Homo sapiens: one gene and its partners. The protein of the gene in region 2 purifies or fractionates together with the protein of the main gene of each other region. This does not show direct contact. Each region holds a gene or a part of one and is shown on either strand. Other genes may lie near its edges.

Region 1 (3,648 bases), on a different chromosome or scaffold from region 2:
AAAAAAAATTAGTATATCTATAGTACTATCCAAAAATATATTTGAAGATAATAGTTCTTTTGGTAGAAATACTCCTAAAATGGAGACTTATATAATTCATCTTCCCCCAAAGTAGAAGAAAAAAAATAACTCCTTGAAATAATTGGCTGGTCATGCCTGTAATCCCAACATTTGAGAGGCCAGAGTGGGAGGACTGTTTGATGCCAGGAGTTTGAGACTAGCCTGGGCAACATGGCAAAACCCTCTCTCTACAAAAAATGTACAAAAATGAGCCTGGTATGGTGTCATGCACTGTAGTTACAGCTACTCGGTAGGCTGAGGTGGGAGGATCACCTGAGCCCAGGAGGTTGAGGCTGCGGGGAGCCGTGATCACACCACTACACACCAGCCTGGATAACAGCAAGACCCTGTCTCAAAAAAAATTTTTTTTAATTCAATTTTATCTGATCAAAACTTCTATTCAACAACCTAAAATTAAGTTTCCTGAATAAATCTGCACAACAGAAAATGAGTTACTATCATAACCAGTGCTGGTTCTTGGCCAGAAGTTTTAACTTCAACTTTATTTTCTTTCAGATGGTGTCTTGCTCTGTCACCCACGTTGGAGTGCAGTGGCACAATCATGGCTCACTGCAACCTTCAACTCTTGGGCTCAAGCAATCCTCCCACACCTCAGCCTCCAGAGTAGCTGGGACCACAGGCACATGCCACCAATTCCCTGCTCATTTTTTAATTTTTTGAAAGACGGGGTCTCGCTATGTTGCTTAGGCTTGTGTCTAACTCCTGGGCTCAAATGATCCTCCCACCTCAGCCTCCCAAAGTGCTGAGATTACAGGTAAACCATAGTACCCGGCTAACTTCACCTTAAATGCAGAAATTGATTTCTAGCAGTCATTGTATGCTGTTAACTTAGGAAGCACAAATCAGCAGTTCCAAAGATAACTGCTGTCAAGTTTTGAGGTTTGAAAAATTAAGAGGCCCAAGACCTTGGACCTACACTAACGTAGTGACCATGTAGCAGCATCTTTTCGGAGATCCTAATTTAAGCACAGTTAAAGGTATGAAATACATCAACACTTTAGATGTCTGAAATGTCTCTGCCTGCTAAATCTGACTGGCTTTAAAATAAATAAATAAAATGTCTTTACTTCCACAGAAGTGATGAGTAAGTCTCACAAACACCATTCCTATGAAAAATAGGCAAGACTCCTAACCCTACCTTATGTTTTGATGTGTAGTTTTAATCTTCATGGTCAATTACATCCCTTTGTCTAGATAAGCACTTCTCTCCAGTACCCTACTCCTAGCCTGGCTGATATCCTACATAGCTGCTGGTTTGGAATTAACTCTGGAATAAACTGTTTATGATGAGACATTCAACCTAAACAGATGAATTGTAAAACCAGAGGGGCTGAAAATACTGGACAACTTTTCTTGTTCTGAGCTTCACTATGAGGACTGCCAGCTCTGTCTAATACATCACACACAGACACTGTTTTATGAGACTAACCTTGTCCCACTCCTGTTCAGAGGTCACATGCTTATCCAAAAACTCTGCCATCCCAATGCCCATTCTCCGGCAAATGTCGGCAATCACTGTTTGGTATTTCTCAGCCAGATTTCTAAACTCAAGGGAGATCTGAAATGGAAACCGTAAAAACACAGAAATCATGAAATATGTACAGACATGGCACCAAAGATCACAAGGCAAACAATGGCGGAATTAATCATGACTGCAATGGTTCATCTATAAGCCTAATTTAGGTCACACATTTTTTTTGTTTTTGTTTTTGTTTTTGAGATGGAGTCTCGCAATGTTGCCCAGGCTGGAGTGCAATGGCACGATCTCAGCTCACTGCAAACTCCGCCTCCCAGGTTCAAATGATTCTCCTGCCTCAGCCTCTCCAGGAGCTGGCATTACAGGCATGCACCACCACGCCCAGCTAATTTTTATATTTTTAGTAGAAGTGGGGTTTCACCATGTTGGCCAAGCTGGTCTCAAATTCCTGACCTCATGATCCACTAGCCCTGGCCTCCCAAACTGCTGGGATTACAGGCATAAGCCACTGAGCCCGGCCTCATGTTTCTTATTATTTCATAAATTTCATAAATATTAAAATAGAATGGTCTAAAAATGCTAATGTTTCTAGATTCAAAAGAAGATTCAAAGTCTCACTACACATTTCATCTTTCCAATGTATAATGAGATGCTTCAACATAAAGCTGGGTTTAAGTTTTTGGGAGAACAGCTTGTTTAGAGAAACCTCATTATGAGAAAGATTCATTTGTGCAAACATGGATCAAGCACTTCCTATGTAACAAGTATCATTCTAGGCACTGGGGATATACATCAGGGCAACAAACAGAAACTCAGACCCAGAGTTGCTTCCAAGATGTCCCAGTAGGAACAGCTCTGGTCTACAGCTCCCAGCAAGATCGATGCAGAAGATGGGTGATTTCTGCATTTCCAACTGAGGTACCTGGTTCATCTCACTGGCACTGGTTGGACAGTGGGTGCAGCCCATGGAGGGTGAGCCAAAGCAGGGCAGGACGTCACCTCATCCAGGAAGTGCAAGGGGTCAGGGGATTTCCCTTTCCTAGCCAAGGAAAGGCGTGAGTGACTGTACCTGGAGGAACAGTATACTCTGCCCAAATACTGTGCTTTTCCCAGTCTTCGCAACTGGCAGAGCAGGTGATTGCCTCCAGTGCCTGGCTCGGGGGGTCCCATGCCCATGGAACCTTGCTTGCTGCTAGCCAAGCAGTCTGAGATCAAGCTGGGATGCTGGAGCTTGGTGAGGGGAAGCGCCTCCCCGCCATTGCTGAGGCTTCAGTACGCACTTCTATGCTCACAGTGTAAACAAAGCAGCAAGGAAGCTTGAACTGGGTGGAGCCCACCGCAGCTCAGCAAGGCCTACTGCCTCTCTAGATTGCATCTCTGGGGGCAGGGCATATCTAAACAAAAGGCAGCAGACGGCTTCTGCAGATTTAAACATCCCTGCCTGACAGCTCTGAAGAGAGCAGTGGTTCTCCCAGCTCGGCATTTGAACTCCAGTAACGGACAGACTGCCTCCTCAAGTGGGTCCCTGAGCCCCATGTAGCCTGACTGGGAGGAGACACCTCCCAGTAGGGGCCGACAGACACCTCATATAGGTGGGTGTCCTTCTTGGACGAAGCTTCCAGAGGAAGGATCAGGCCGCGATATTTGCTGTTCTGCAGCCTCCACTGGTGATACCCAGGTAAACAGGGTCTAGAGTGGACCTCCAGCAACTCCAACAGACCTGCAGCTGACGGGCCTCTGTTAGAAGGAAAACTAACAAACAAAGGAATAGGATCAATATCAACAAAAAGGACACCCACACCAAAACCCATCTGTACGTCACCAAAATCAAAGACCAAAGGTAGATAAAACCACAAAGATGGGGAGAAACCACAGCAGAAAGGCTGAAAATTCCAAAAACAGAACGCCTCTTCTCCTCCAAAGGAACGTAACTCCTCACCAGCAAAGGAACAAAACTGGATGGACAATGAGTTTAACGAGTTGACAGAAGTAGGCTTCAGAAGGTTGGTAATAACAAACTTCTCCAAGCTAAAGCAGCACGTTCTGACCGATCGCAAGGAAACTTAAAACCTTGAGAAAAGGTTGGACAA
Region 2 (3,748 bases):
CCTCCATTATCTAAAAAAGATTGGCAAAAAGTTAAATCTCCTTTTACTTCAAAAGTAAAGAAAATCATGCAATGAGATGATCCTGTTGGGCCTTCAGCACAGACCCATCCTCTCTTCCCCGGCTCCCAGCAGTCCAGGGCAGGTTTCTGTCCTCAGCAGGCTGAGTTTTGTTCAGTCCATTCGTTCCTTGCTGGATCAGCACACTCTGGATTTCTCAGCCCTTTCAGTCTGAGTGTTCCTCCCTCATGGCCTTCACAAGCCAGTCCTGTTCTGTCCCCTGCTCAGAGTCACTGGTGTCACTCACCTCCATGGACAGCAGCTTCGAGTACTTGATTTTCCGCTCTCGGGGCAGCCTCCGCTGTATGGACAGGAGCAAGGCCAACCAGAGCAACAGGGCCACACAGCAGGCCTGGTAGAGCACAGCCAGGCTGAAGCGCATCACCACGAAGCCCCCGACAAAGCTGCCCAGGCTACAGCCACTCCCGTAAAAGTGGCCTCGGAACAAGGCACTCAGAGCCCTCTCCATGCGGGGAGTGGCCAGGTCCTCTACTGAGGCCCCCACAGCCCACCACAAAGCTCTGTTGCTAATGGCACTCAAGATCTGAATGGGGAGGACGGACCACCAGCTCCAGAGGAAAGAGTAGTACAGCAGCTGCCCAGCGAGGCAGCTCAGCCCCAGCCCCACCAGGCCCGTCCTGGACAGTTTCCTAAGCAATGTAGCTTTGAACGGATGAAGCAGAATTTCCCCCAGCAAGCTGAGGGCGACCGAGAAACCCATGACCAGCTCGCCGCTCCCATGGTCCTTCATGTGCCAGAACAGAAAGTTCTGGACAGTACTGACGATGGCTCCTACCAAAACAGTGGTGGAGGCGAGGAGAATGAGGTGGGGGTCACCCCCCACAATGGACAGTGCTTTGACCCTTTTGTAGCTGGGCTCCCACTGCTGACAGATGGGAATGGGAAAGGCAATGCTCACCAGTAAGGCCAGGGTGCTGACCACCGAGTACCCATAGAAGTGGACCACACCTCGGGGGCCACTGGTCATCAGGAAGCAGTCCAGCTGCCCCACCAAGGCTGTGATGCCACACACGCCTGCCGACATGCCCAGCAACCTCCAGACCCACAGGCTTCTGTATCGGTCAGTGGCATCCACAAAATCCAGGAACTCATAAAGGCTGTCATCTGCCACCTGCTCCAGAGGCGCTGTCAGCAGCTCCCAGAACGCCACGGACCCCAAGGAGAGGATAAAAGTCCGCCGCAACGCCTCCAAGGACAGGTCAAAAGCCCAGGCTTTCCCCTTGGTCCCTGACAAATTGGCTGGATTCCCGGGCCCTTTCCCCCCAGGAAGCAAGGGGAGGGCTGTCTTGACCACCTCAAAAGTAACTTCCCAGGGATGATCTTTCAGCCCCGAAGTGACAGGATGGAGGAGAGCTTGGGATGTGGTCCTAGCTCCTTCAACGGAGGGCGCTAAGTAGACGTGCAGATCACGGAAAGTTTCTCGGTCACTTTCACCAGGTGGGTTTCTGAAGCCAGGCATTTCCACCTCTGCAGTCCTCTTGGCTGGGTGGCTGGAGGCAGACTCTTGGGCCGAGGTGATGTTCACAGGTAGCGTGACCCCCGGGAGTGCGTCTGTGCTGGTCAGGCCGCTGCTTCCATTACAAGGGAAGTGCACCCGATTTTTGTCTACCGGTGGGACCAGGACCATCAGCAGGCTGGCCCCCACCGAGCCGAGCAGGGAGCCGATCAGAAGCGCTCTCCTTTTCCGGTAGCTTTTGGCCAGGAAGGCACAGACGGGAGCCCAGAAGGCAGCGATTAGGTGCTTGGTTCCCATTAGGGTGCCCACCCAGGGCGCGGCCAAGCCCAGCTGCCTCAGGTAAAGGGTCAGGAACGGGGTCACGCAGGCTTCCCGCACCCCGCACACCAGGTGGAAGAGCTTGGCCACCCCCAGCGCCCTGCTGATGTCCCACCGGGGGTTGGCACTCATGGCTGCCGGGCTCTGTCAGGCCTGGGCCGACGGAGGGCGGAGCTGGGCGCAGGGCGGGCGCGGCCCCAGGTACCCGGGAGGGAGGCTTGGGGGACCGGGGCTCGGAGCGAGTGGGACTGCGCCCCCGGTCTGGGGCGGCGCCGCGGTCACCAGGTCAACGGCCGCCCCCGGCCACAGCCCCCAGGTCCTGCCGTTGGACCGAAAGGGGCCCCGCCCGGAGGGAGAGGCGGGGCGGGGGCGAAGGTGGGGGCGGGGCCAGCGCACCTGCGAGCCGCACCTGCCACGTCCCACCGCCTCCGCGGGCCACCTGCCCGGACGTGCGCAGGTGCGCTAGGGGCGCGTCCGGGGGCCTGTAGGGTGCGCTCTGAGCTAGGCCTCGGGCCCCGCCTGGCCTCTGGCTGCCAATGTGGCCCAGGAGCCTGAGCTAAACGCCTGGACTGCTTCAGGCAAGTAAAACCGTCAGAGTCGGCGTGGGGGGGAGCCAGAATGGAATGAATGGTATCCACCAGGCTGTCTCCCTCATCTTCTTCAGGTCTGTACTGGAATGCACCCTGATCAGTGACCAACCACAGACAGAGATCAACACGGTCCACTCTGACATCGCAAATCCCATACCCCTGTACCCACCCCGCCCCCAAGACTCCCACTCCCCTGCCCTACTTGATCGTTCTCTCTAGAACTTATCACTGACCAAGGCACTACGGGCTTATATTTCATGTGTTGACTTTGTTTATTGTCTGTCTCCACCAGAATCCAAGCTCCAGGAAGGCAGGTATTTTTGTCCCCGGGGCCTAGAATTGTTTCATTGGATGCATACTGCCCTCGGAAATGGCATGACCTTGGGTGACATGGTTGTCTCCAGCTGGGACAGTCCCTAAGGAGGGCTGACAGCTGATGGCAGTCGTCCAGGGGAACTCCTTGCAGCCGATCGCCAGCACATGGCAGTCCCCAGAGCCATATGTATGTGCTGCACAGTTTTAACCTACACCTAAGGGTGGTCTGGTGCCCTGTTTGAGAGTACACACACTTGAGGTGGTTAGCTAGCATTTCATCAAAAAGACAGAGACAGCTAGTACAAGCACGTCGACAATCTTAAATCAACAGAAGTGTCTTCACTAATGGACATAATAGATATTAGAAATAGTTTTTCACTGGTGAAATTAGTGGTGTCCAAGCCACCTGGATTGGAGATAATTTTTTTGAAGGCATTTCCTCTCTTGCTGGAACAGGCTATAATAATCTAGAGATGGCCTGGTGCGGTGGCTCATGCCTGTAATCCCAGCACTTTGGGAGGCCGAGGCAGGTGGATCACGAGGTTAGGAGATCGAGACCATGCTGGCTTACACGGTGAAACCCTGTCTCTACTAAAAATACAAAAAAATTAGTTGGTTGTGGTGGTGTGTGCCTGTAGTCCCAGCTCCTTGGGAGGCTGAGGCAGGAGAATGGCATGAACCCGGGAGGTGGAGCTTGCAGTGAGCCGAGATCACGCCACTGCACTCCATCCTGGGCAACAGAGTGGGACTCCGTCTCAAAAAAAAAAAAAAAAAATCTAGAGATGCCAGTAGTCCAAACCCTTTGGAAGGATGCTATAGGCTTTGCTTCAAAATGGTCCAGTGTGCAGCTCCTGATTCAGTAAACTTTTCATACAAGGTTTGCTCAGAGCACCTAATTTGGCTGGGGGTGGAGTGGAACTGCTTGCCAACACATGTCTATGTGTAAGGGAATTCGGCCTATGACTTGCCTGCATTGTCAGCTGGTAGAGAG
Region 3 (3,748 bases), on a different chromosome or scaffold from region 2:
TAAAAATACAAAAAATTAGCCGGGCGTGGTGGCGGGTGCCTGTAGGCCCAGCTACTTGGGAGGCTGAGGCAGGAGAATGGCGTGAACCTGGGAGGTAGAGCTTGCAGTGAGCCGAGATCGCGCCACTGCACTCCAGCCTGGGCGACAGAGCGAGACTCCATCTCAAAAAAAACCAAAAAAACAAAAAAAATCATACCTCGGCCTGGTGCGCCTGTAATCCCAGCACTTTTGGAGGCCAAGGCAGGCCAATCACCTGAGGTCAGGAGTTCGAGACCAACCTGGCCAACATGGTGAAACCCCATCTCTAATAAAAATACAAAATTTAGCCGGGCGTGATGACGGGCGCCTGTAATCCCAGCTACTCGGGAGGCTGGGGCAGGAGAATCGCTTGAACCCAGGGGGTGGAGGCTGCAGTGAGCCGAGATCGCGCCATTGCACTCCAGCCTGGGTGACAAGAGCAAAACTGTCTGAAAAAAAAAAACAAAAACAAAAACAAAAAAAAAATCATACCTCAATGAAATTCACCTGCAAATGTATTTTCTAACTCCTACCCGTTAAATTTCCCTATTACATTCTATACCACAACAATTTTGTCTTATAAGTCGTTTACATTGCTAGGAAAACGACAAACTATTCCACTGCTTATAATGAGCTGACTGTTATCACTTCCTCCCTCACACAATTATTTCTTTAAAAGTGAAAACAAATCTTTTGATCTGTGTATTACTTCGCTTTGACACCTTACAACTTCAGGGGAGGTCAAGTCTGCTTTACTTATTTTTCCCCTCAACTCAGTCTCAATATCTCAACATGACCTGGAAAAATGCTTTATTTTCTGCTTCGCAGCAAACAGTAACAGACCTATCCATCATAACTACTCATCTGGGGAGTAGTTATGTTAAAGCCAAATTAAGATCACCATCCTATCAAACTGCAACAGTCACACTCCCGCTAAAGGGAAACAGAGTACTTTCTAAGCGTTCCTTAATATCTGTACAAGACTTAAACGTATTAAAGTCAACTGCAAAATTATCGCAACACTCTCTTCCAGGAACACCGATCTTGCATCTTTTTAACCAGCTCATCTTTAAAAACACATTTCAACAGAATATCTGTCAGTCCAGACCACTGTAAGGTTGATAATAAGCATTGTCTTGAATTTAGAACTTTTCAAAATATTTTAGAACTGCCTGAACTTGGTTGATGATTCAGCATGGTTAATTAGTATAGAGTCATCGCAAGTCACCACCAGGCTAAACAATCCCCTTGTGTGATAGCACTCGTGTTCAGGAAAGGGTCGAAGGGGCCACCTAATCCAACCTGGAGCCTGGGGTAGAGTCTCACCACCGGCAGAGTTAAGAGAATGATGCTTTCGAGGGACCAGCTTGGATTCCCTGCCAGATCTATGGACCAATGTCCTGGTTGGGGACTGAACGTGGTAGTCCAGAATGTGGTTGGGAGAGGCTGGGTGTGTTTCCATCTGACACCACCGCCTAATTTTCTTTGCTTCTTAAGGACCCCATGGGTGGTTTTCTTTGGACGACTGCAGGACTTTAAAAGGAAGCAATAACCTCAGGGGTTTGAGAAGGGACCCTCCGGAGCCCTTGGGCGGCTCCCACTGGAGTCCGAAGGGCCCCTCATCGCTTCCCCTGGGGACAGCACACACTTCTGGCAGAATGGGGCAGAGAAAAGTACCCGGAGCTCTGAGCAGAACCCAGAGCTCCGGGAGTAAGACCTCCAGGCGCGGAGAGGTGGGGAGCCCCCGAGCCGTCCTTGAGCCTCCAGGCTCGTGGAGGTCGGGCCAGCGGCCGGACACTGCCGCCCACACCTGCGAACGGCGCCCGCCCCGCGGATTGCCCAGCGGATGGCCCGGAGACCTCGCCCCGCCCGGCCGCCCCTCCGCCAGTCCACACCGCCACCCCGGCCCCGCCGCGCGGGCCCCTCGTACCTGGCCGGCGGCGGCTGCGGCTGCGGCTGCAGCGCTGCTCCTCACGTACCCGTTCCGTACTTCCCCGTTCGCCACGCAGCCATTCGCCCGCACCGTGCGGCGGCAGCAGCAGCCTCCGGGCTCCGGCCGCATCTTCCTGGCAGCACCAGGCGCAAGGCAGGCTCTGTAGGCGGTGGCAGCGGCGGCGGCTGCTCCAAGTCCCGCTCCGCACCCCACCCACCTCCCCGAAACCGGAAATGGCTGCAGCGCCGCCGCCAATTCCCGGGCGGGCCTTCACAGAGGGCGGGGCCCTCTCCGCAGAGGACCGGTCTCGGCCAAGGCCACGCAGCGAAGGGAAAAAGCGGCGGGGACCTGCCGAGAGGGATGTGGTCCTGAGGACCGCTGACCAATCTGGAAGAGAAGGAGGCGGACCCCATGCTGCTGCCTGGCCAATCACGGACGAGAGCAAAGCGCCTCGCCGGTGGAGAGGGGGCTTCTCTAGAGGGACTCCAGGGCCTGGCACCTGATTGGAGGCCGCATCCAGGTCCGGGGTAGGGCTTGCCTGTTTAATGGTCCAGACCGAGGAGGAGGCGGAGCCCAGGGAAAAGTAGCCAATTAGAGTGTGAGGAAATAAAAGGGGCTGAGCCGAAGTCTCTAGAGCGGGTTCCCAGGTTCTCCAGGACAGGTGGCGCCCTCTTTGCCCTTGCCTCGTGGGAAGTTTTGGAGTTTATGTCCTAGCCCAAGACAGGCAGCTCGCTTATTTAATTAGCTGATTCCTCTGTGAGTGTTTATAGAATAGATTTTTTGACAATCTCTCATCATTCTTCAATATGCGCCACACATTCACTATTTCTGAATTATTATAAGTAATAATTCAGATGCCTTTTCACGTGCCCTTCACATTTGCCCTTGGCAGGGTTTTCTATACAGTCTCCTTTAAATTAAGTCTTTCCTTCAAAGTTAGAAAACCTGGTCTAATTCCAACTCTGCCAATAACTGGAAGCTAAAACTTGAGCACTGTGTTTAACCACTTTAGAAGCCAAATTCTTTAAAATGGAGTTAATACTTCCTGCTTCATAGACTTACAGCAAGAATTATATCATTAACCCATTATGCACCTCTTATAATACTAGGCTTATAGTAGGAGTATAATAAATATTATTTTCTCACCCTTTTAGTTCCATCTTCCCATGGGGTTAGAAAGCAAGGAAATTGATCTACATTACAATTAGAGACTTTCTGTTATCCATAAAGAATTTAGTATCATAATTGAGAGTATGGACTCTGGAGTCGGTCTGGGTTTTAAATCCTAGCTGCGCCACTTACTAGCTGAGTGACCTCTATGTGTCTTCATCTGTTCAGTGGGGACAATAATAGTTGTCGTGAAGATTGAATAAGTTTATGTATGTAATGTATTTTGTACAGGACCTAGCAATTAGTAAGCATTCATTAAGTGTTGGTTACTAGTAATTGCTAAATGCACCTATGAGAATCCGTGCATTCTTTCCCCACCCTGCAGGAGCTTTAGAAAGGAGGTCCACAAGGTATTGGTTTTGCATGACTTAGGAGCTGAATAATCTAACAGAAGGTGGGATCATTCATCCCACACATCCTATTTGAGTTGACAAACACTATTGATCCCAAAGTGAATATACATCTGTATGTATAAGGCTAAAAAGGAAACATGTGGCTGTGCTTCATGGAGCTTACATTTCAGTGAGAGACAAGATATACACATAGAAAGAAAACAATAGTTAAAGACCAACCTAAGGCTGGAGAGATTAGGCAACAGGAGTTCTGATGAGGGAAGCTGAATGGCAG

The links.
Region 1: the proteins of MFSD6L (region 2) and FDFT1 purify together in Homo sapiens (affinity purification with mass spectrometry; one large-scale study listed by BioGRID and IntAct). This does not show direct contact.
Region 3: the proteins of MFSD6L (region 2) and SPTLC2 purify together in Homo sapiens (affinity purification with mass spectrometry; one large-scale study listed by BioGRID and IntAct). This does not show direct contact.

The regions. Positions count from the first base shown.
Region 1 is NC_000008.11:11,819,741-11,823,388, reverse strand, and holds part of FDFT1 (squalene synthase), read right to left. Parts: intron 1,640-3,648; coding exon 1,511-1,639; intron 1-1,510. UniProt on the Homo sapiens protein: Catalyzes the condensation of 2 farnesyl pyrophosphate (FPP) moieties to form squalene. Proceeds in two distinct steps.
Region 2 is NC_000017.11:8,797,137-8,800,884, forward strand, and holds the start of MFSD6L (major facilitator superfamily domain-containing protein 6-like), read right to left. Parts: upstream 2,230-3,748; 5' UTR 1,985-2,229; coding exon 224-1,984; 3' UTR 1-223.
Region 3 is NC_000014.9:77,614,500-77,618,247, forward strand, and holds the start of SPTLC2 (serine palmitoyltransferase 2), read right to left. Parts: upstream 2,139-3,748; 5' UTR 2,081-2,138; coding exon 1,949-2,080; intron 1-1,948. UniProt on the Homo sapiens protein: Component of the serine palmitoyltransferase multisubunit enzyme (SPT) that catalyzes the initial and rate-limiting step in sphingolipid biosynthesis by condensing L-serine and activated acyl-CoA (most commonly palmitoyl-CoA) to form long-chain bases.